7 linked regions of the Homo sapiens genome follow. The protein of the gene in region 1 interacts with the protein of each later gene in a pairwise test. Each region holds a gene or a part of one and is shown in the gene's direction. Other genes may lie near its edges.

Region 1 (2,185 bases):
ACAGTATAAGGGATGTGCAGCAGAGTGATCTCTTCTTCCCCTTTCCCCAAGACCCCGCCCCAGGGGCAGTCGCGGTTTAAAGGGGTCTGTCACCCCTTCCTTGGGCCATTTCCGCGCTTCGCATTTTGTGATTTGCACGTGCGTTGGTGGGTTCCCGGGGGCGGGGCGCCGCGCTGGCCCCGCCCACCAGGTGCGTCCCTTGTCTCGCCCCCTGCAGACGCGCGCACGCCCACGCTGGATCCTGACACGATGCACGCGCGCCTGCGCCTGTCCGCCGATCGCCTGACGGTGCGCTGCGGCCTGCTGGGCAGCCTGGGGCCCGTGCCCGTGCTGCGGTTCGACGCGCTCTGGCAAGTGCTGGCTCGTGACTGCTTCGCCACCGGCCGCCACTACTGGGAGGTTGACGTGCAGGAGGCGGGCGCCGGCTGGTGGGTGGGCGCGGCCTACGCCTCCCTTCGGCGCCGCGGGGCCTCGGCCGCCGCCCGCCTGGGCTGCAACCGCCAGTCCTGGTGCCTCAAGCGCTACGACCTTGAGTACTGGGCCTTCCACGACGGCCAGCGCAGCCGCCTGCGGCCCCGCGACGACCTCGACCGGCTCGGCGTCTTCCTGGACTACGAGGCCGGCGTCCTCGCCTTCTACGACGTGACGGGCGGCATGAGCCACCTGCATACCTTCCGCGCCACGTTCCAGGAGCCGCTCTACCCGGCCCTGCGGCTCTGGGAGGGGGCCATCAGCATCCCCCGGCTGCCCTAGGGGCCAGGACCGGCGTGACAGCCTCCAGGTACGCCGCAGCTGCCCAGTCTCGCCTAATCTACCTAGATCAGCGTGGCTGGTCCCCTTACTGCCTGCTTCTTAGGGCCCTCTCCCTGCCCCAGCTTTCCCCGACCAATCACGCCTACAGTGCTTTGAAGGTTTCCTCTCCTAGGCTAGTTTCAAACAGGCCCTAAACAAGTCTGCTGCTGCCCTCTCATCAGACCTCCGCACCCTCACCCCACCATCACTTACACTACTTTAATCCAGTTCCTTCAAAGTGATACCCCCACAGGTAAGCCCTCAGCATCCTGAATACATCATCCGCAGCCTGGGAACCTTCTCCCTCGTACAGCACAGGAACCTGACACATAGTAGGCACACAGTAAACGTTTGTGAATGAATGGGAGTCATCCAGTCCTGACTCTTCTGTCTCTTGAGGTCCCTTGAATCTTCCGCTTCCTCCCCACCGATTTCAGCGTGTCCACATCACAGCTCCCTCCAGAAGCTGCAAGAGCTTCTTAGCAGTTCCTGGTCTGAACCCTCTCCCAGTCCTCATCTTCCACCCTAAAACTAGAGTGATCTTCCTAAAACTTCACTTAACCCCTCAGCTATGAAAAGGCTTCCAGGAGTTTCCATGAAATAACAAAAAAAAATACAAGCGCCTCACCTTAGCATTCAAGGCTTGTCTAGTCTGCCCAAAATTACTTATCCTCACCTAGCTCCTACCACTCTTCTTAGAGACTCTCCAGTCAGAAATGTGTCGCATAGTTCCACCTCCACACCTCTCTGCTGCCAGCACATTCATGCAGAAAAGTCTTTTCACCTGTCTCAGTCTTCCGCAGGCTTACCTGCGCCAGGAAGTCTAACCAAGGAACAAGAATCTCACTATCAGAGCCACAAATCTGGGACCTGTCTTTCCAACTAAATTGGAGGCTTTGGAAGGGCAGCTTTGTCCTATACTCTCTCCACCCTGAAAAGTTCCCAGAAAGCCCCTTCCCTCCCAAGCAGTGAATTAATAACCAGCAGGTGCCTATCACTGAGTAACAGAAGAGCTGAGTTAGGCGGGCCTCACAGGTCACCCAGCCAGATCTCATCTGGGGAGTCTGAGGTCCTGAAAGAAAGCAGAGCTGCGTAAAGTTACCCCGGGGTGATATAGGGGGGCCAGACGTGTGCCCCGTTCACCCACCCCCAGGCAAGCATCTGACCTGTCCCCTGGCCCAGCCCTTAGGCCCAGCTTTCAACCTGCTTACTCATTTCTCAGGGGATTTTGGGAAGGAATCAGCAGGTGACAGTTGCTAAGCAACCAAAGGGGGTGGTGTTTCCCAACTGTCTTGGGACAAAAAGGGTAAGAGCACCCTTAGATCCAGATGTTGCCAAGGAAACCCAGAGTGCCCAGCTGTCTGGAATGAAGTGACAGAGGTAGAAAACAGTA
Region 2 (3,494 bases), on another chromosome or scaffold:
GGGAGGACTCGCTTTGCCAGTCAGGACCCTGGGTGGTTACTGTTGTTGCAGGCTTCAAATTCTCTCTGTGAGCTGCTTGTAGTCTGTCCCAGGATCACCTGCCTCCTCCCAGTAGCCTCGCCTCTCCAGGGTTTCAAGTCCAAGGTTCTGGGTTCTGAAATGGGCCCCCTGTCCAGCTGCAGCCGGCTACCCTATGGGTGCTGGCCAGAATCCCAGCTCTACCCTGTGTCCCTGCTGTGCTAGGCCCAGGTCCCTTTCCCTGGCCACAGAGGGGAGAGTCTCCTGCAGGTTCTGAAACCTCTGTGCAGACAGCATCAGCCTCCTCCTTGCCCTCCTCCCAGAGAGCCAACCCAGCTTCCCACCAGGCCTCGCAGCCAGAGTGGCCCCCAAAAGATGATGCTCTCTGGGGACAGGGGCAGGGCAGGGCCATTGTGATGAGACTGTATGCTGGCCCCACAGGCTTGTGATGCCTGGAAGAAAGAGGCGGAGGAGGCTGGTGAGCGGGCCAGTGCGGCGGGCGCCGAGTGCGAGCTGGCCCGGGAGCAGCGGGATGCACTGGAGGTGCAGGTGAAGAAGCTCCAGGAGGAGCTGGAGCGGCTACACGCGGGGCCTGAGCCCCAGGCCCTGCCCGCCTTCTCCGACCTGGAGGCGCTCTCACTCTCCACCCTCTACTCCCTCCAGAAACAACTGCGGGCCCACCTGGAACAAGTGGACAAGGTCAGCCCAGGTCGGGGAGCACTGGGTGGGATGCACGGTGGCCTCAGCCAGCTCTTGGACTCTGACCTGGTCCAGGCTGCTCCAGGGATGGCCACCCTCCTGAGAGCCTCTGCCCAGCACTGGGCCAGCACTCAAAAGGCCGGCCTGCTGGGAATGGGTGAGGAGAGTGCACTGGGGAAGGTGAAAAGGCTGGGGGTGAGGGGTGTCGGTGCCACCCCCAGCACCCCTGAGGGCGGCCCTGACCAAGCTTCTCACAAATGCCTGGGCCCCAAATGCGTCCTCCTGTACACCCTCCATGGAGCAGCGGGCCTTCCAGTGAGGCCCAGGACCCCAGGGCTACCCCTGCCTTCCCAGGTCTCCTGCTGGGTCCCCGGGGCCAACGTGGCATGGTGGGAAGAGCTGTCTTTCCTCTGTTCTCGGGCAGCCAAGCCCCCGGGTGTGGCCCTGGGCATGTCCCAGCCCTTTCTGGGCCTCATTTTCCCCATCTGGGGATTACAAGGTCAAATGAGACTGGGCGAAGCCTCTCTGAGGGGTGGGTCTTGTGGCAGCCTGGCCATGCCCCATGCAGAGGTGGACTCAGCCTGCTCTCTCACCTGCCAACAGGGGTCTGGGAGCACACTGTTGAGCTCGGTACCTCAGTTTTCCCATCCCAAGGGGCTGCAGTGAGGATCAAGGGAACTCCTCGCTCAACTTGGGGCCAGACCCATGGATGGTGACCACGATGCCCCTTTCCCTGCAGGCCGTGTTCCACATGCAGTCGGTGAAATGCCTTAAGTGTCAGGAACAGAAGCGGGCAGTGCTGCCGTGCCAACACGCTGCGCTGTGTGAGCTCTGCGCTGAGGGCAGCGAGTGCCCCATCTGCCAGCCTGGCCGGGCCCACACCCTCCAGTCGTGACCCTGCAGGCCTGGCCCAGCCTGGCCCAGATCTTCTCACCTAGGACTTTTTAAAGTATATATATATATATGAATATATATATATATGTGTATGTATGTATGTATATGTATATGATTATGTATATGTATACATTTCCGTATGTATGTATATGTATACATTTCCGTATGTGTGCAGGTATGCGTGGTGGTGTGGACAGTGTCTGTGTGTATATCTGTACATAGATATAGACACACACTTTAAAAGACTTACCAAGCACTTTTTAAAAGAAGAAACTATTTTGCAGTCCTCCCCTACCCACTCCCTGCCCTTCCCACTGCAGAGATGACATCCCCTCTTCTCCCACTGGCCTTTTGGCAGAGAATCTGGTTCTGTCTCTTTTTTAATGTAGGAACTAACTATTTTTAACTTCTTCCTGGGGCCTGAGCAGGGAAGGGTGGGACTGGAAGGCACTAAGGGGAAGGGAGAAGCCCTCAGGGCAGGCCCTGCTCCCCCTACCTCCTTGCCAGGGCAAGGGTGGAGTGTGGAAGACGTGGGTCCCCCAGAGCAGGCCTGGCCCCCAGCTGTGAGGGCCTCAGGGAGGCCCGAGGGGGAGTGCTGGGGGTCTCAGCTGGCTTAGCTCCTAAGTTTACCAAATGTTAATTTAGTCTTGGGGAGAACAGCAAGGGCTGGAGGCCAGTGCTGCAGGGCCAGCCCCACTCCTGACACCTGGGCCCTTGAAGCTCCTTGAGGGGCAAGGCCCAGGAGTTCCAGCCCTCAGGTTCCTGAGGGTCCACCCTCAGTCCTTCCCCCCGCCGCCCCTCCCCGGACTCCCCACAAGAGCCTCCCTGGCCCCAGGGCCGCCTACCAGGCTGGTACTCATTCTATGACCACCGCCCCCAACCAGCTGCCCCCAGCTCTCCCTGCCCCCTCCCCTCTCTGGCAGCTAGCAGGGCAATTGGCGGGGAGGAGTGCGGACTGAGGACTGAGGACCAAGGGGGCCCAGGCCCTGCCCTCCTACCCGGAGGGGCTCCGTTTGCATTCCTTGGTGCTCTCTGAGTGCAGCTGGTGTCCCGCCCTGTTCTGGGCGGACGCCTGTGTGCGTGTGTGTGTGCCTGTCCAGTGTATATTGTGTCTTAGCTTCCATTTTAAAAATTGTTCTGTACAGAGAGAGATGCAGCAGGGGCGGGAGGGCAGAGTGGGCGGAGGGGAGCAGCCGCACCCCCAGCACCGGGTGTCTGCGGTAGGAACAAGAGGGCTGAGAGGGTCTGGTCCTGGCCCAGGCTCCCCCTTGGGCTCAGCACGAAAGGGCTTTCAATGAATTAAGTGAAAACTTTTTCCTTTTTTACAAAAATGCAAAAATCAACAAAGCTCCAAACCTATTGGAAATAAAATATGAACTTGCAGTGGTAGCTTGTTTACATGGGGGTGAGGGGGAGTGGGTCCCAAAAGAGGGCCTCTGAACTATGAGGTGGGCCAGGAGCCTTGCCTCAGCCATGGAAACGGCTGCTGCCCACACCCCTGAGCTGTGGTAAGGCAGCTGGAGAGGGCTGGAAACTTCCTGGGCCCATCAGGCCCCAAGACAGTTCAAGTGCTCTCCGACCTAGGCCTAGCGGTTGATGACACAGGGACCCTTAGCCTTGGACACAGAGGCCCCCCAGGCCCTAGGACTCTTTAGGGCTGTGTGGTCAGCGGTGACTGGCAATAGGGCCCGTAACTGTTTCTCAGAGGAACAGTGTCTTCCCAACTGGGCATGGTGGCGCATGCCTGTGGTCCCAGCTACTAGGGAGGCTGAGGTGGGAGGATCACTTGAGCCCAGGAGGTCGAGGCGGCAGTGAGCCATGATTGCACAGCTGCCTCCAGCTTGGGTGACAGAGTGAGATCCCATCTCAAAAACAAAAACAGG
Region 3 (3,500 bases), on another chromosome or scaffold:
CTGGATTATGACTATGTTCAAGAAATACTATTTTCAAGCACTAATCATTTAGATAAAACTTTTTTTACACATTTATGGCATCAAGGAGTATGACTGTTTATAACATTTTACCTATAAAGCTGAACTGTTTTATATACTCTTTATGGAAACATGGCCATAAATTAAAAGATGCAACTGTTTTGAATATTTTACTGGTGGTCCTCTGTTTTCCTGCCAGCAGTGCAGCTGTTTCAGGTTTCTCAGGATAACATATAAAAAGCTGTATGCACACTGCAAGTTTATGCTCAAATTGCCAAGCCAGATATGGTATGACTCAACTTTCCCAGAAGCAAGCTGTACCAAAATGTGATGAATCAAAACAGTTAGTTGCACAGTGGTTTGTATTACAGCTATGAAAACCAATTCTCATTTATGATGTTTGGCTTTTCAAGGTTGACAAACATTCTACTGTGGTGCTTGAATTTTACCATAAGTGAACATCTATTGAAGCTAAGACTATGCTTTTCTTTTGAGGATCTGAGGAAAGGAAAGGGTGATACATTATCATCTGGTGTGCGGATAAAAATTAGCTGGAAACTTGTATCAGGAATGGAACATTTCATTTCCAAGTTACCTATAAAAATATTACTCACTTATTATTTGTATGATAGTTATTGAATTCCCTGTGAAGCCAGGTTAATTTTTAGACCTTTCTGAGGTAACTTAACATTTACTTCATTTCTCATGCATCAGAATCTTAACAGTTGATACTTTATTGTGTCTTGGAAAGTAATAAGCAGATAACTTTATGGCCATGGGGTAGGTGTGGTGAATCCCTATTTCAATCCTATGCGACCTAAGGTTCTATCAAGAGTTTAACAACGACTATTTTTCTTTTTTTTTTTTAAACAGGGTCTCACTCTGTTGCCCAGGCTGGAGTGCAGTGGTGCGATCTCCGCTCACTGCAACCTCTGCCTCATGGACTGAAGTGATTCTCTTGCCTCCCAAGTAGCTGGATTACAGGCACCTGCCACTGTGCCTGGCTACTTTTTCTATTTTTAGTAGAGACGGGGTTTCACCATGTTGGCCAGGCTGGTCTGAAACTCCTGTCCTCAGGTGATCCACCTGCCTCGGCTTCCCAGAGTGCTGGGCTCACAGGTGTGCGCCACCACACCCAGACAACAATGACTAATTAATAATAGTAGTCTCTAAAGTGGGATGTGTCCCATGAGGATATGTAAGATACAGTATATGGAGAAAATATTAAAACATTCATTCATTAATTTATTTAGAGATGGAGTCTCGCTGTGTCACCCAGGCTGGAGTGCAGTGGCGAAATCTCGGCTCACTGCAACCTCCACCTCCTGGGTTCAAGTGATTCTCCTGCCTCATCCTCCTGGGTAGCTGGGATTACAGGCATGTGCCACCACGCCCAGCCAAGTTTTTGTATTTTTAGTAGAGATGGGGTTTTGCCATATTGGCCAGGCTGGTCTTGAACTTCTGACTTCAGATGATCCGCCCACCTTGGCCTTCCAAAGTGCTGGGTTACAGGTGTGAGCCACTGTACCCAGCCAGAACTTTTATTTAAATATTTTTATTTCATCCTTTTTCTATTTATATTTTTATATTACACTGACTATATTAGTATCTTATGTATATAATTATATATAGTAACATATAGTACATTAGTATTCTACATAAAACATATCTGAGATATGTTTTATGGCTATAAAATACTATCAAAAATGTTTTTGTTTTTGTTCAATAAATATTCTCTTCTTCCTTCCGCTTTCCCCTTTCGCCCTTGGCAGAGAAGCAAATAATTGAGTTAAAACCTTGATTTGTGGCAATGTGAATAAATTATAGCTAATTCCAGGAACTTAGCTGCATCCTACCTTGACCCATTTTTTCTACTGGACTCTTATATTGCTCTATATGTTTTAGCTACACAGGTTTATTAAACATGGATACAGATGAAAAACAGACTTGTTATGTTAGAAGTTATAAGTTGCTCATGCATTAAGATTTTGACACACAGGAAGTTTGAATGAATGAGTGAAAAAGGTTCCAAGTTATTAAAATGTTCTGGTACCTGATTTATTCATTTGCCATACCAGTAATTCTAAGGTGGGTGAAGCTCCTTTACTTCCTGAAGAAACAAGTTAGTTTCTTAAACTAAGCATTAAAAGAAAGCTGGAATTATTTGTTTCCAGAAGTGTTAGTAGTCATGCTAAGTTGCCCTTCTTTGGCTAGATTGTCCAATGTTTTTTAGGCCTGTTTTGTCTATTTTTGTCAAGATATAAATGTTTAATTGCTTTAAAAAAACTGTGTGGTTGCAGAAAAAAATTGTACTGTTATATTGTTGAGATCAATGAGACTTTTCTGTATTTACTTTTTCAGACATTATTTTGAACTCAGGCTCAGTCTCAGAGATTTCTTCAACATGTAATTTTCTAATGTTTCCTTTCCTGCAAGGAATGAGACAATATATTCTTGGAATATTAAAGTACTTTTGAAGTAACTCATACGTTTTCTCCCCTCTTCCATTTGTTTAGCTATTGAGGGTTTGCTTTAAAACAAATTTATGTAGAAATATCAGTACTATAATAGTATTGTGATACTGTGTATTTCTTAAGCATATGCCAGGAAGGAGAGCATTAGTTAGGTGTCCAAAAAACAGCCAACAAAACAAATCAGCTCTGAAAATCGTGAAGCAGTGAATATTTTAGAATTATTTTTGAAACCTCTTTCAGAACTGTTTTTAGACCCCGTGGTAATTTGCTATGTAATTTAATACTAGTTTAGGCACTCCATGTACAGTTGGTATGTTTCCTTTTGAAAGATAATAATCTATTTATAATAAAAGTCTGAATATTTCAATCTCGGAATTCCTCTTTAAAACTTGAATCAGTTTTACTATTGCTTTTTAAAATGTTACCTATTTATATTTGCTTTGTATATCAATGCTACACTTCTTGTTTTGTTTTAGGTATTTAAACCATGTCAGAGCTGCCTCACCACAGGACCTTGCTGGAGGCTATACTTCTTCTCTTGCTTGTCACAGAGCACTACAGGATGCATTCAGTGGGCTTTTCTGGCAGCCCAGTTAACCATTTATAAGATTTGGACCTTGGAGCTGAACCAGGGAGCTAGCAAAAGTAAAGCAGACTTATAAAATTATAGCTATGTGCAGCTGCACAACACAGTCCTTCCACTAGCAGCTGTGTTAAAGTATTTATAAGGAGAAAATTTCAGAACTAAGTTGAGTAATATAGGGGATATATATTTGTGAAAAATAATTTTTACTTATATTTTTCAGAGGATTTGACACGATAAGCCTCATCTGATGGAAGAGAGGAATAAATAATTCACCTATATGTGTTTGAGGTTGTGACAGACTTATAAAATCTTTTTAAAAAATAAAGCTATAATTTATATTAAGTTCTGTGGTTTTTCTCTTATTACAGTGTTTTACTTGAACACATTTTAAATACCATTTTGATTACAACATTTACTGTTAA
Region 4 (3,500 bases), on another chromosome or scaffold:
AGGAAGATATTTGCCAGAAGGGCTAAGAATATAAGCCAGTGGATCTCAAACTTGAGCATGCATCAAAGCCACTTTGAGAGCCTAAGACACATATTGCTAGACTCCACCCCTGATTTTCTGATTTTGTATGTCTGAGGTGAACCTAAGAATATGCATTTCTGAGTTCCCAGGTGATGCTGATGCTGCTGATCCCTTGGCCACATTTTGAGAATCACTGATCTAGGAGAAAAGACTGCTGGCCTGGGAGGCGGAAGCCCTAAGTCTTTATGCAGGATTTGATACTAAGAAGTATTTCCCCAGGAAAGTCCCTTTTTCTCTTTGAGCCTCAGTTTTCTATAAAATGGGAGTAAGGTGGACTAAATGAGCTCTGAAGGACATTCCAGCTCTAAGATACTATATTTGAACAATACCATTTATTTAGCAGTAAATATTAATTTAGCCCATTTACTGAGTGCTTTATATGAATCCTATCATTACATCTTCACCAAGATTGCATGAGTTAAGCACTAGAATATCACCATTATACCGATGAAGAAACTGAGACTTGACCAGAGTTACATGGAGAGGGCATGGGAGATCAAGGACTTGAATATAGACTGAACAAGTTCTGGAGCTTGTGCTATTATTCACTCAGCTATAGATCCTCTCTGAGAACCTTAGGATCTTTTCTCTGTGCCTATCCCACTCTATGTTCCAGATGGAAAACACTATCAAACAATCTGAGAATGACCTAAACAAGCTGCTAGAGTCTACAAGGAGGCTGCATGATGAGTATAAGCCACTGAAAGAACATGTGGATGCCCTGCGCATGACTCTGGGCCTGCAGAGGCTCCCTGACTTGTGTGAAGAAGAGGAGAAGCTTTCCTTGGAGTAAGCTACCTGCCCCCAGTCCCTACAACATACCCTCCCTCCGACCCACATACATACTTACATACCTACACACACACGGGCAGGTATACATACACAAAGCCTAGCCTGAAAGTCAGAGTGCCTAGTTTTAGTCCCAGGCCTTTCAGTGGCTTACTCACTGTGTGATCTTGGGCAAGTCTCTGTGCCAGCTTGTTAAAACAGAAGGAGGATTATTAAACTGGATGAATTACTAGATGAATTAGAACAACTACTAGGTGGCTTTTTAAATTCTTTGTGTGATATTGACAATACAAGACTATGTCTATAACTCTTAAGAGATCATTTCCCAAGTCAGGGTCTAGAAGGCGATATCTAGAAACCTCTAAAAACAAAAAAGACTGAGCTTTCCTGGTCTTCAGGAAGTGGCCTGGGACTTACTTCATCTCCTGGCTCAGAGTTAAGAACTAGGCTTGCCTTGCAGAGAGACAGAATTTGACCTGGTAGAGGAAATCATTTCCTAAAGGTAGAGCAAGGTGTCTGTGGAGTTTGTGAGCTTCCTACTCTTAGAGATATGTCACCAGAGGCCTTAGGACACTTAATAGGAATACTCAAAAGAGCATGAGATAGCAGATAGGACTGAATACCCTTTAAGGATCTTGCTAGCCCTAAGATTTCTTGGTCTTCTTGGCCTATCAGAGCTAAGGACAAAGAGGATTACCCTTCTCATCAGACATTGGGCCTAGTACCCAGGGACAATAGCCTTGTGCTTGGGAAGGTGTGGGGACCTTCTAGAATGAGCCACAGCTCAACCCTTGGTTGTATGGCATGGAGTCTTTAAGAGGAGCAAGGTTCTCATTGCTTTCAGAATGATCTAGCCAGTGTCTCTCATCTCCAAAGTTACTTTGAGAAGCAGAAAGCAGAATGGCAGACAGAACCTCAGGAGCCCCCCATCCCTGAGTCCCTGGCCGCTGCAGCCGCTGCCGCCCAACAGCTCCAAGTGGCTAGGAAGCAGGATACTCGGCAGACGGCCACCTTCAGGCAGCAGCCCCCACCTATGAAGGTAAGTGAGCTGGGTAATGGTTGTGGAGGAAGCAAAGTATCCTCCCATGGAAGGGCCGTGGAAGGCTAGTTCTGGGTCTTTGGCTTTATTTATGCTGGGCCTTCTTTTAATGGCCTTTGCTTGTGACACAGTGGAAGGGGTGACATGGGTGTGCTGTGTTGGACACACACAGCACAGGTTTTGTTGCCCCATGTTCCCAGAGGTGTTAGAATGCAGGGAGATTTTCAGGCCCTGCTAGAGTGCAATTCTAAAAGTTAGAAATGACTCTTACACAAAGATGTAATGAGCATGTATCATAAATGAGGGAACCAGCAGGATTATAAAGCTGGTTCCAGGAGCATTTGGAACAAATATCTATATAGTCAAGAAAGGAGAGGAAGGCTGAAACAAATTTGCAAAGTTAGATGCAAAACTGGTTTACATCCCACAGGACAATAAAACTGTAACTTTATAGTTACTTTTTCTTCCAAACAGAAGTAATTTGCATCTCTACTGGGCAAAAGCCATTTGCAGCTTATCAGTGTAACATCACAGAGCCTGGGTCCTAATCAATTGGTAAATAGTCAAACAAAGAGACATTCTTCTAGAGCAGGGGTCATCAAATTACAGCCTACAGGTCAAATCTAATCTGTTCCCTGTTTTCGTTAAAGTTTTATTGGCCCACATGCATGTCTGTGTTTGCAAGCTATTGCAAACAACATGCATGCAAGCTATTGTCTATCACTTCTTTCATGCAAAACAGAATTGAGTAGTTGCAGCAAGTTTATATGATGTAAAAAGTCTAAAGTATTTGCTGTCCTGGCCTTTACAGAAAATGTTTGTTGACCCCTGTTCTAGAAAATTAAATAGTCCTTAAGTGGGCCTGTTAGACAATGCTTCATTATAATGACGAAAAGATGTGTAGTTCTCATTTTGCCTTACTTTCTAGTTTTGTATACTTTTTCTCAACACCATTCTCTGAACTGGGTTATGTCCTTCCTTCCCATCTTCCATGGCATCCAAGAATACTTGAGTCTACTCACTGATTATTGCTCTCTTCTGATGGGAAATCACTTTGCTTTCTGGGCCCCTGGGGAATCAGAAGTCTAAGTTGTTGCCTGGAAGAATCTGACTACTAACTTTCTTTTTCCTGTGTCCCTCACCAGGCCTGCTTGTCATGTCACCAGCAAATTCACCGGAATGCACCTATATGCCCTCTTTGCAAGGCCAAGAGTCGGTCCCGGAACCCCAAAAAGCCGAAACGGAAGCAGGATGAATAAAGAAAGGGAGAGCACATGAAGCTTTGCTAATTATAACCCCTCACCTTGACCAGAGTCATTGATGTCCTGATGTGAAACAACCCTTGCCCAACCCCACGAAGTCTCCTATTTAATGTGATGGAAGCACAACCCCTCTCTCACTTTGCTCCTATTTCTTTCTGCTCTTGGGATTTCTGGTTTAGGAAGAGATGTGGTTCAGGTGCTAAACAGTGTGTCTGATGATCCCTTCTCTCCCACTCACATTTCAACCCCTGCCCTTGTTTGGAGCTAAGGGAAGGGCAAAAGGCTCAGATATGATTCTCTATCTCTTGTGCCTGAGGCCTGGAGCCTAA
Region 5 (2,178 bases), on another chromosome or scaffold:
GAGCCCCTATACAAAGATTTTCCAGTTTTAACAAATTTAAGACCCTCTCAAACTAACAGGCTTAGTGATGTAATTATGGTTAGTAGAGGTACACTTGTGAATAAAGAGGGTGGGTGGGTATAGATGTTGCTAACAGCAACACAAAGCTTTTGCATATTGCATACTATTAAACATGCTGTACATACTTTTTGGGTTTATTTGGAAAGGAATGCAAAGATGAAGGTCTGTTTTGTGTACTTTTAAGACTTTGGTTATTTTACTTTTTGGAAAAGAATAAACCAAGAATTGATTGGGCACATCATTTCAAGAAGTCCCCTCTCCTCCACATTTGTTTTGCCAATTTGCACATTAAATGACTCTTCCCTCAAATGTGTACTATGGGGTAAAAGGGGTAGGGTTTAAAGATGTAGACAGTTGGGTTTTTTAAGGGCCCTTTTTCAATAACTGGAACACTCTATAACAAAGGATACTTATTTAAATAGATGACATTGACTATTTTTGTTTTTATTAAAAGGAAGCTTACATGCCTACCAATATTTAATCTTTTATGATTGCCTTTTTATAACTTTTTATATTCTCAGCAGAGTGCTTTACCAATTGAAGTAAAATGTGGCAGGCTGGAGTTATTGAAGCAGAGTGGCAGTCTTCAGTTTGCAGAGTAGGGGTCTGTCTTTTAAACTCTGAGTGCAAACTTCAGAGTTCTTGCCTTGGCTGCAGTTTTTTTCCTTCAAGAATGCAGTACTAACATTTATTTGAGTGGAGTTACTGAACAGTAACATAGCTGTGATTTTTGGTATTTGAAACACTGGTTTTAAATATTTTGACTTGTTGAGGGTATGTTTTATATAGCAAGACATTATATAGCAGTAAAAAATGGTGTTTTATCTTCTATATAATTCCTGTTTTTATTATTAACAAAACAGTCCTAAATAGCAGCCCTCAATTGTGAAAAAATTTACTTTAAACTACATTAGGTTGTGAATGCAGGTTTTATCAGAACTATGTTTTTGTTCAGTTTATCTGTTCATATGGATAAATATTGGTTGGGATGACTTGGTGTCTAATGTGTAGTGCTACACACCTAACTTATGGGGCCAAAATAGCATGTCCTAATGCTTGCTGCTGATTTAAACACATTAAAGGTACTTTGCAGGAAATCCTTGCACCATGGGATTAATATCCAATTGCTGCTTGTACACTCATTCATTACTAAAAGTTTTGAGAAATTTTTTTTTCCAGTAATGAGCTTAAGAAATTTGTGGAAAATAACTCACCTGGCATCTTACATCTGAAATAAGGAATGATATAAGGTTTTTTTTTCTCACAGAAGATGAAGCACACAGGAACCTAATGGGCCAACTGGGATGAGGTGACTATTCTGAGATGACTATTCAGTGGCTAACTTGGGTTAGGAAGAAAATAATTAGGTATTTTCTCCAAATGTTCACTGGTACTCTGCCACTTTATTTCTCTCATCTGTTACACAAAGAACCACCAGGAAAGCAAATCAGTTTGGTTGGTAACTCTGTAATTCCTAACTATCACTGGTTTGGTTCTGGACTAAAACTACATTGACAGATTGAATTTGCCTAATATGATGACTGTTTTTAATATGGATCTGTATGTGTTCTATTCAGCACAAGGAAATAAAATTTTAGTTGAGGATTCAGCACTAAAATCCTTGAGATCACTTCTCATTTCATAAGTGACATGCTTAATGCAAATAATATATGGGAATACTTTGGGTCAAAGTTTTCCTGCATTACCTTGGATGCCAAAGAGGTAGTTTGGTGGCCAAAAAGTATCTTTTTTTAAGAAGCTGTTGTAGCTAGTCTGCATGAACATGAGAAGTTTCCATAAAGGAAAAAAAGCAGTGCTCAGTGGCCATTTGTTACTGTTAATCTGTATCTAAAAGGTACATACTTTCTTCAGAGAGGGAGAAAATGGCATAGCCTCAGCACAATTTAAAAAAAAAAAAAAGCTTTTTAACCAGTAGGAATTTTTGAATAGTTTCAAAATAATATTGATAATACCACACTTCTGGTCAACTTAATAAAACACTCTAAATTTCCTAAAAAGGTAGAAAAGCTATAAAATATCTAAACCAAATATTATTGGTTATACTCGGGTGGATCTTTTATTATGAACTTTAAATGTAGGGTTCTGATTTTTGGCTTC
Region 6 (4,058 bases), on another chromosome or scaffold:
CAGTGAAACCCCGCCTCTACTAAAAATACAAACATTAGCCAGGCATGGTGGCGGACGCTTATAGTGCCAGCTACTTTGGGAGGCTGAAGCACGAGAATCACTTAAACCTGAGAGGCAGAGGTTGCAGTGAGCCTAGATCGTGCCACTGCACTCCAGGCTGGGTGACAGAGTGAGACCCTGTCTCAAAAAACAACAACAATAAACAATGGTTATATATATGGGGAATATCATTTAGTCTGTGGCTTGTCTTTGTGTGCTTTTTCAACTTGTTATACGGAAGTAACACATTTTAATACAGTCAAATCTAAATATTTTCCCTTATGGTTTGTGCTTTTCCGGTCTTATTAAGAAATTCTTAGCCGGGCGCGGTGGCTCACGCCTCTAATCCCAGCACTTTGGGAGGCTGAGGCGGGCGGATCACCTGAGGTCAGGAGTTCGAGACCAGCCTGACCAACATGGAGAAACCCCATCTCTACTAAAAATACAAAATTAGCCAGGTATGGTGGCGCATGCATGTAATCCCAGCTGCTCCGGAAGCTGAGGCAGGAGAATGTTTGAACCAAGGAGGCGGAGGTTGCGGTGAGCTGAGATAGCACTGTTGCACTCCAGCCTGGGCAACAAGGGTGAGACTCCGTCTAAAAAAAAAAAAAAAAATTCTTCCCTATTTTTGACATTATAAAGCTATTTTTATTTTCTGAAAAATGTTTGCAGGTCTTTAATCCATCTCGGCCTTATTTTTGGAAATGGTTTGAGGTAGAAATCTAATCATTTATTTCCCTTTTGGAAAAAATGTCTCATCGCCATTTATTGAAGAGTCTGTCCTTTCGCCCACTGACTTGTAATGCCGTCTGTATCATAAACCAAGTTCCCTTGATGTTACTCTTCATTTCGGCCTCACAATCTTTGCTTATTTTCCTTCTACCAGGGATGCTTTTCGCTATGTTCCTTTCAGGGCTACCTTCCTCTTGTCCCTTCAGATCGCAGTTCAAATGTCATCCCCCTCAAATCTAGATTGCTCTACAGGCATTTCTGGCTCCGTGATCCCATGACCTCAAAGGGGTCTAGGTGGGCATAGCCTCTAGCCAGTTGTTGCTAGGCTGTTGTCAGGACTGGCGATGCGTAGGCCACTGAGAGCACCCGGAGTCCGAGTGACGGAATCAGGCGGGCGCCCGCGTCGCTAAGGAGTGCGTCACAGTGCGCGGGCGGCCGGGGGCAGGGCCAGGGCTGAGTCACGTGGCTTGGTTGCCTACGCGCTGGTGGGCCGTGGGAAGATGGCGGACGGAAAGGGAGACGCCGCCGCTGTCGCCGGGGCTGGGGCTGAGGCTCCGGCGGTAGCGGGAGCCGGAGATGGAGTCGAGACTGAGTCCATGGTTCGGGGTCATCGCCCCGTATCTCCAGCGCCGGGAGCCTCGGGACTGCGGCCGTGTCTGTGGCAGCTGGAGACAGAGCTGAGGGAGCAAGAGGTGTCGGAGGTCTCATCTTTGAACTACTGCCGGAGCTTCTGCCAGGTGAGGGGCTGACTGGCTGGCTGAGGGCGGCGGGGCGGGGAAGTCAGGGAAGGAGGCCCTGGATCCTCTGTAAGCAGCCGGGTCCAAACTGAAAGGCGCCACCTCCGTGACTCGCCGCGCCCCCGGGCCGGGAAGGCCCAGCTCGGAAGCTCGACCGCTGGCCCCCCTGCGCCACTGCCCGACTTTGGCCACCGCTGGGTCGTTTTGCTCTGAGCCTTACTGAGATCCCGGAGGGCCCTGGCGGGTCCCTGGAAGGGCTGTGCCCTGTCGCCGTTGCCTGTGTCCTGGCCGGGTGGTTGGAGCGCCACTGCCCCCTGAGGGATTGATTGCTTGTCCCTGCCGGGAGATCCTTTTTTGAGTGGAGTGCAGATCTCCGAACTGGTAAACCCGGGTTTTTCTGAATAATCCAGAGAGGTGTGTTGGGGCCAGAGACTTATTTTTGGAGTTAACATCTTCTGGGCTCCTAAAAGGTATGACAGTTGGCTTCGAAAGGCGTCTAGAGCTTTCTGATTAGGGATTGCGGAGCCGGTTGGTTGTTTGGTTTTTGCTTTTTTTTTTTTTACGTTTAAGCCGTTCTTTCGTCTTTTCTGTATTTCTTTGAGAGGATTGTGCTACCGAGAATAAGGCTGACTCTTTGAGTAGAAGAGGATGGGAAGAGGGATGTAGAGTGTGGCCTCTTTTGGCAGTCGTATGATCATTTCTGTGCCTTGGTGGGTCCTAACCTATGATTACATATTTATGGGTGTGTTTAGTTTAGTCTCCATGACCACTCCGAGATTTTTCTGTATGTTTTCAAGTCTTTTACAAATACAAATATTGGCCATTATTATTTCTGCTTCCAATGTTTGTTCTGTCAGGTTTCAGAGGCACCCATCAGCTCCTTATCTGTTGTACCTTAGAAAATGCAAAATAATCGTGGCATGTTGGTACTTGGAGTCTAATAAGTAGTCCAGTATGCTGAATAAATTGCGGCGTTCTAAAATAATAATTTTGGGGGGCAATTTGCTCTGTTGGTCCGGAGTAGAATAAAAGTTAGCTTGCTTGATTGCTTTTCTTCCCTCTCTCTGCCGAGGCAGAAGCACCTCATCTCTCTGAATGGAATTTTGTCCTTACTAATCTTTTCCGTGGATTGTACCACTCCAATTTTTGTGTGTACAACCTGCAACATTGCCCTGTACTATTAAATGTTAACGTGTTGTTGTTCTCTGCTTCCTTAGTAGTAGTCATCCCTGTTTAGTAAGCTCATTTATTTTACAGATTTTTACTGACTTCATAGGATAGTGCCAGGGACTTTACCAAGTGCTGGGGAAACATGAGTAAGACAGCACTTAGCCTTGATGAACTTACAGTTGGTGGGAGGTGGTAGGAATGACAGTATTTCCAGTGCGGTTTTGGTAATGATGGAAAAGGAGGTGTTGTAGAGACAATGGTGAGGAGAGAGCCTTCATGGGATATCCTGATGGGAAAGACAATTAACTAGAAAAATAAGTAAAAAGGTTAATTATAAATTGTAGTATGTGCTTAGAAAGAAGTAACTGGGAGAGGCCACTTTAGTTAGTAAGACCCTATGGGCTGCAAGGATGAAAATGAGTCACGTGAAGGTCTGGGGTGGGGAAAGCATCCCAGTGCCAAAGGTAGAGATTGGTAAGGACCCAGAATGCTATGGGAGGAGGGGAAACTAATGGAAGGAGAGGGGTGGTGCAGGAAAACAACTGTGGGTTTTGGGTAAGGCTTCTAAGCTTGAGTTGTCTCCCTGGAAAGATGACAAGAATGAATGTAACCAGTCACATTGAAGCTTGTCAAAGGATCACATATATATGTATTCTGCTTTATGTCTAGTGCTTGCAACTGCAGTTTTGTTTAAGGTAATGTTTTAATGTCTTGAGTCTTGGTGACACCAGAGATGTGATGGCCCAGAAGAATTTTTAAAAGAAAGCATGTGTAATTTGTCTTTTCTATGAAGTTTTTTTTAACCTAAAATTTTCCCAAAAAATGTTTTTTAGACTAATAAATGAAACAAGAACAAGTATTCCTGTAACACTGTATTGTAATAGAAAGCACATGGGATTGGGAGTTAAGTTGGGTCTTGACTGTGACTTTACCACTGCTTAGCTAATAACCTTGGGTAACCATGTCTGCAAAACTATCTTATTTTCTGACCTTTATCTCCTTATAATGCTTTATACAATCAGAATAGAAAATTTGTGTACAAGTCTTCACAAAATTTATCATATTTTTGACACATTTTCCCCTGTAGTCCAGATAAGATCAACTGTGTCCTTGATGACCAGATAGAGAAAAAGTAAAAATTGTATGAAGAAGCAGGAAAATTTTCACCATCAGTAAATTTTGTTGAATAGCTCTTGGTTTCACATTTGAAAAGAAGAATAAGATATATTCATTTACTTAAGGAACACTGATTGTGTGACAGTTCTGAAGGTGGGAGCCTAGTTAAGACAGTTTTCTCGGACTCTAGGAGAGGAGCACATAATATATAAAGATAGATTGTAGGCATTTTTACATTATAAAGGTCTGACCCCTGCTTATGGG
Region 7 (3,500 bases), on another chromosome or scaffold:
CTCCTGACCTCGTGATCTGCCCGCCTCGGCCTCCCAAAGTGCTGGGATTACAGGCGTGTTTTGTTTTTTTTTTTTTTTTTTTTTGAGACAGTCTCACTCTGTCGCCCAGGCTGGAGTGCAGTTGTGCGATCTTGGCTCATTGCAACCTCCACCTTTCGGGCTCAAGCAATTCTCCTGCCTCAGCCTTCTGAGTAGCTGGGATTACAGGCGCACGTTACCACGCCTGGCTAATTCTTGCATTTTCAGTAGAGACGGTTTCACCATGTTAACTAGGCTGTCCTTGAACTCCTGACCTCAAGTGATCCACCCACCTCGGCCTTCCAAAGTGCTGGGATTACAGGCGTGAGCCACCGTGCCTGGCCATGGATGACTCAGTGTTTTGATGACCTATACTAACCTGCCCATGCTGGGGATAGTGCCGAGATATACCCATTGATACAGAAATTACCTGCTGGTTTTGTCCTTCCAAATAAAAGATCTAGTATATCCTTCAAAAATACAAAAATTCCCTCCCTATGTTTATTTGGTTTGTTCCTAGGGGAAGCATTGGAAAGTTTAAGGCAGTGTGGTGGTGACAGTACACTGGGCCTTTTGCTTTGATTATGAAGCTTATTTGCTACCTCTTTGTTTGCCTGAAAGTTATATCAGAGATGGACATAAAGCAACAGAAGAAGATGTTCAAGAAAATTCGAGGGAAAGAAGTTTACATGACTATGGCTTACGGCAAGGGAGACCCCCTCCTCCCACCCAGGCTGCAGCACAGTATGCATTATGGGCACGATCCTCCAATGCACTACTCACAGACAGCTGGCAATGTTATGTCTAATGAACATTTTCATCCTCAGCATCCATCTCCGAGACAAGGTCGGGGATATGGGATGCCCAGGTAAGACATTGACAGATTTGTATTTTCATGGTCTAGGGAAATATGAAGCAATTGAAGAGATCCAAGAAGATAGAATGCCATCAAGATGAGGGTCTCTGTGACATACAGACTGTATTTCATTAATAATAGTTAGCCCTAATGCCAGTATTGCAGAGAGCAGAGCTCTTTCTAGTTGAATGTTTTTAGAAAGACAGATTAGTTCTATTTAACTACAGAGACTGACTACTTAGGTATTAGTGAATAGAGAGTTCTAGTTTCCTTTCTCTTTATTCTTAGGAATTCATCTCGGTTTATAAACAGGCACAACATGCCGGGCCCTAAAGTTGATTTTTACCCAGGCCCAGGTAAAAGGTGCTGCCAGAGCTATGATAACTTCTCTTATAGATCTCGGTAAGTATTGTGTTGAAAGTCAGAGAAAATTGGTAAGTCTGATTTCATTGCTGAACATTAATGTTTTAAAAAGTGTCAACTTTGAGATATTTGAACTGTTATTTAGAAATTAGGAACAAGTTACTATATTTCATCATTTTTACTTTTTTATTATTTGAACCACTTAAGTTCATTTAGACGTAGTCACCGCCAGATGAGTTGTGTGAATAAGGAGTCCCAGTATGGATTTACCCCAGGGAATGGACAGATGCCCAGGGGCTTGGAAGAAACTATTACTTTTTATGAAGTTGAAGAAGGGGATGAGACTGCTTATCCAACTTTACCTGTGAGTGGATCAATGCTTTACTCAAAAAGCTGTTTACTTTTTTCATTTATTTTTTTGAAGTAAAGGCAATGTGGATAAATTTTAGATTTTGTACAAATAACCAAACAAAGCCTTTTCTGGAAAATGAAAATGAGAAAAGAGACATTTTCTCCCAGCTGTTCCTAGAGAAGGGAATAGAGGTAGACTTGATAATCTTGCCTATAGAGTATGGGTTAATATTTTCTATTTTCTTGATTTTTACTTCATATTTTTTGTATTCTAAACTGCATGGAAAACATTTAATTACAGAGTTCTCTTACAATAGCAGTTCACATTGTTAGGCTAGTTTTTAAACTGCCTTTTAAAACATCCCTCTAGCTTTTTTTTCTGACTATATAGTGAGAACTGCAGTGTGTGTGTGTCTCTCTGATACAGAATCATGGAGGTCCCTCTACAATGGTTCCTGCTACTTCAGGATACTGTGTTGGAAGGCGGGGACATAGCTCAGGCAAACAGACTTTGAATTTAGAGGAGGGCAATGGCCAGAGTGAAAATGGTGAGTCAATTACAGTTAAATATTTTTTAAAAGATTCTTGTGGCATTAGCACATCAGGCCAGTGAAGTAGACCAATTTGGTTTTGGCGTCTCTCTCTGTTCCAGTAGCTTAGTTCTGAAAGATTTATATAAGTTCTTAATGCTTGCTGGGTTTTTGAATATGTCCTGGTATTTCTCAGAAGAGTAGACTTCTATTTCATTAGGCTGCTACATTGTTATAACTTGTTTTCAGCTCTCTGCATAGGTCTTTAGTGAGTTTTGACTTGGTGTCAGATATCAGTATGGAAAACATCTATTCGTTGTTAGTAGGGCACTATTGATAGTTGTCCTCACCATTTGTATATGTTAGGCTTTTCGTGTGACTGGCTATTATTTTTTAAGACTACTATGAAGTAACTATTCGATAGTTACTTCATACTATGAAGTCTATTTGATCTATAAACATTACTCTTTATTGAACCCTACGTGATACCCACTCTACTAAGTCATTATATTCATAATATAGTCCTTCGTGTGCTCTTCTGAGGAATGTGCTGTCCCTATTTTACATATGAGGAAATTGAGATTCAGAGGGTAAATGACATGGCTAAGGTCATATCCTTGGTAAATGGCAGAGATATAATTTTTTGTAACTTTTATTGAGATATAATTTACATATCATACAATTCAGCTATTTAAAGAATACAATTCAATGGTTTTTTATTCAGAGTTGCATACCATCAACACAATTAATACTAGGACATTTTTATCACCACAATAGAGAAATCCTGTGCCCATTAGGAGCCATTCCCCATTTGCCCCAACCCCCAGCCCTTGGCAACCATCAGTCTGTTTTCTGTCTTTATGGATTTGCCTCTGCTGGACATTTTTTATAATTGGAATCGTATACACACACATAGCCTTAACAGTTTTTATGTTGACTCCTACCATGGAATGTGTTTATTTTTACCTTGTTACTTTTAAAAGATACTGTATATCCCTATTGAAACAATTGTGGAGCATTGAGTGGCTTAAGGAGGTGTCAGGCATTCCTAATGACTTGACTTATGAATAAGTTCCTTATTTTCTTGTACTCTTTTTTTCTACTAGTGTAGAAAAAAAATAGATATTTTTAGGAATTTAATGAGTAAAAAAATCTAGTGCAAGAATGATCTGTGAAAACTTTGTACGTGTGTGCATGCGTGTGCTTAAGGACATTTACTGTCTGCTCTCTTATTTAGATGACCCTTTTGTCTTTTAGCTCTATGGGTAGTGTGGCATATTTGAAATAACCAAATCTTTGCTCCCACCTTAAATCTGGAGGAGTTTCATGCGTGTGTGTTTGATAAGTGGTGTGTTTAAGAATCAAATTTAGTTTAGAACTGC

The links.
Region 2: the proteins of TRIM14 (region 1) and UNK interact in a two-hybrid assay, tested with the Homo sapiens proteins (one large-scale study listed by BioGRID).
Region 3: the proteins of TRIM14 (region 1) and MNAT1 interact in a two-hybrid assay, tested with the Homo sapiens proteins (one large-scale study listed by BioGRID).
Region 4: the proteins of TRIM14 (region 1) and ZC4H2 interact in a two-hybrid assay, tested with the Homo sapiens proteins (one large-scale study listed by BioGRID).
Region 5: the proteins of TRIM14 (region 1) and IVNS1ABP interact in a two-hybrid assay, tested with the Homo sapiens proteins (one large-scale study listed by BioGRID).
Region 6: the proteins of TRIM14 (region 1) and RLF interact in a two-hybrid assay, tested with the Homo sapiens proteins (one large-scale study listed by BioGRID).
Region 7: the proteins of TRIM14 (region 1) and ALG13 interact in a two-hybrid assay, tested with the Homo sapiens proteins (one large-scale study listed by BioGRID).

Annotation. Positions count from the first base shown.
Region 1 is NC_000009.12:98,086,038-98,088,222, reverse strand, and holds part of TRIM14 (tripartite motif-containing protein 14), read left to right. Parts: intron 1-217; coding exon 218-753; 3' UTR 754-2,185.
Region 2 is NC_000017.11:75,822,806-75,826,299, forward strand, and holds the end of UNK (RING finger protein unkempt homolog), read left to right. Parts: intron 1-459; coding exon 460-717; intron 718-1,456; coding exon 1,457-1,612; 3' UTR 1,613-2,994; downstream 2,995-3,494. UniProt on the Homo sapiens protein: Sequence-specific RNA-binding protein which plays an important role in the establishment and maintenance of the early morphology of cortical neurons during embryonic development.
Region 3 is NC_000014.9:60,965,261-60,968,760, forward strand, and holds part of MNAT1 (CDK-activating kinase assembly factor MAT1), read left to right. Parts: intron 1-2,968; coding exon 2,969-3,089; 3' UTR 3,090-3,298; coding exon of another isoform or gene 3,299-3,326; 3' UTR 3,327-3,500.
Region 4 is NC_000023.11:64,917,451-64,920,950, reverse strand, and holds part of ZC4H2 (zinc finger C4H2 domain-containing protein), read left to right. Parts: intron 1-697; coding exon 698-870; intron 871-1,746; coding exon 1,747-1,909; intron 1,910-3,054; coding exon 3,055-3,168; coding exon of another isoform or gene 3,169-3,187; 3' UTR 3,188-3,500. UniProt on the Homo sapiens protein: Plays a role in interneurons differentiation. Involved in neuronal development and in neuromuscular junction formation.
Region 5 is NC_000001.11:185,295,888-185,298,065, reverse strand, and holds the end of IVNS1ABP (influenza virus NS1A-binding protein), read left to right. Parts: coding exon 1-31; 3' UTR 32-1,678; downstream 1,679-2,178. UniProt on the Homo sapiens protein: Involved in many cell functions, including pre-mRNA splicing, the aryl hydrocarbon receptor (AHR) pathway, F-actin organization and protein ubiquitination.
Region 6 is NC_000001.11:40,160,129-40,164,186, forward strand, and holds the start of RLF (zinc finger protein Rlf), read left to right. Parts: upstream 1-1,258; 5' UTR 1,259-1,271; coding exon 1,272-1,508; intron 1,509-4,058. UniProt on the Homo sapiens protein: May be involved in transcriptional regulation.
Region 7 is NC_000023.11:111,726,170-111,729,669, forward strand, and holds part of ALG13 (UDP-N-acetylglucosamine transferase subunit ALG13), read left to right. Parts: intron 1-639; coding exon 640-886; intron 887-1,162; coding exon 1,163-1,276; intron 1,277-1,444; coding exon 1,445-1,601; intron 1,602-2,015; coding exon 2,016-2,136; intron 2,137-3,500. UniProt on the Homo sapiens protein: Catalytic subunit of the UDP-N-acetylglucosamine transferase complex that operates in the biosynthetic pathway of dolichol-linked oligosaccharides, the glycan precursors employed in protein asparagine (N)-glycosylation.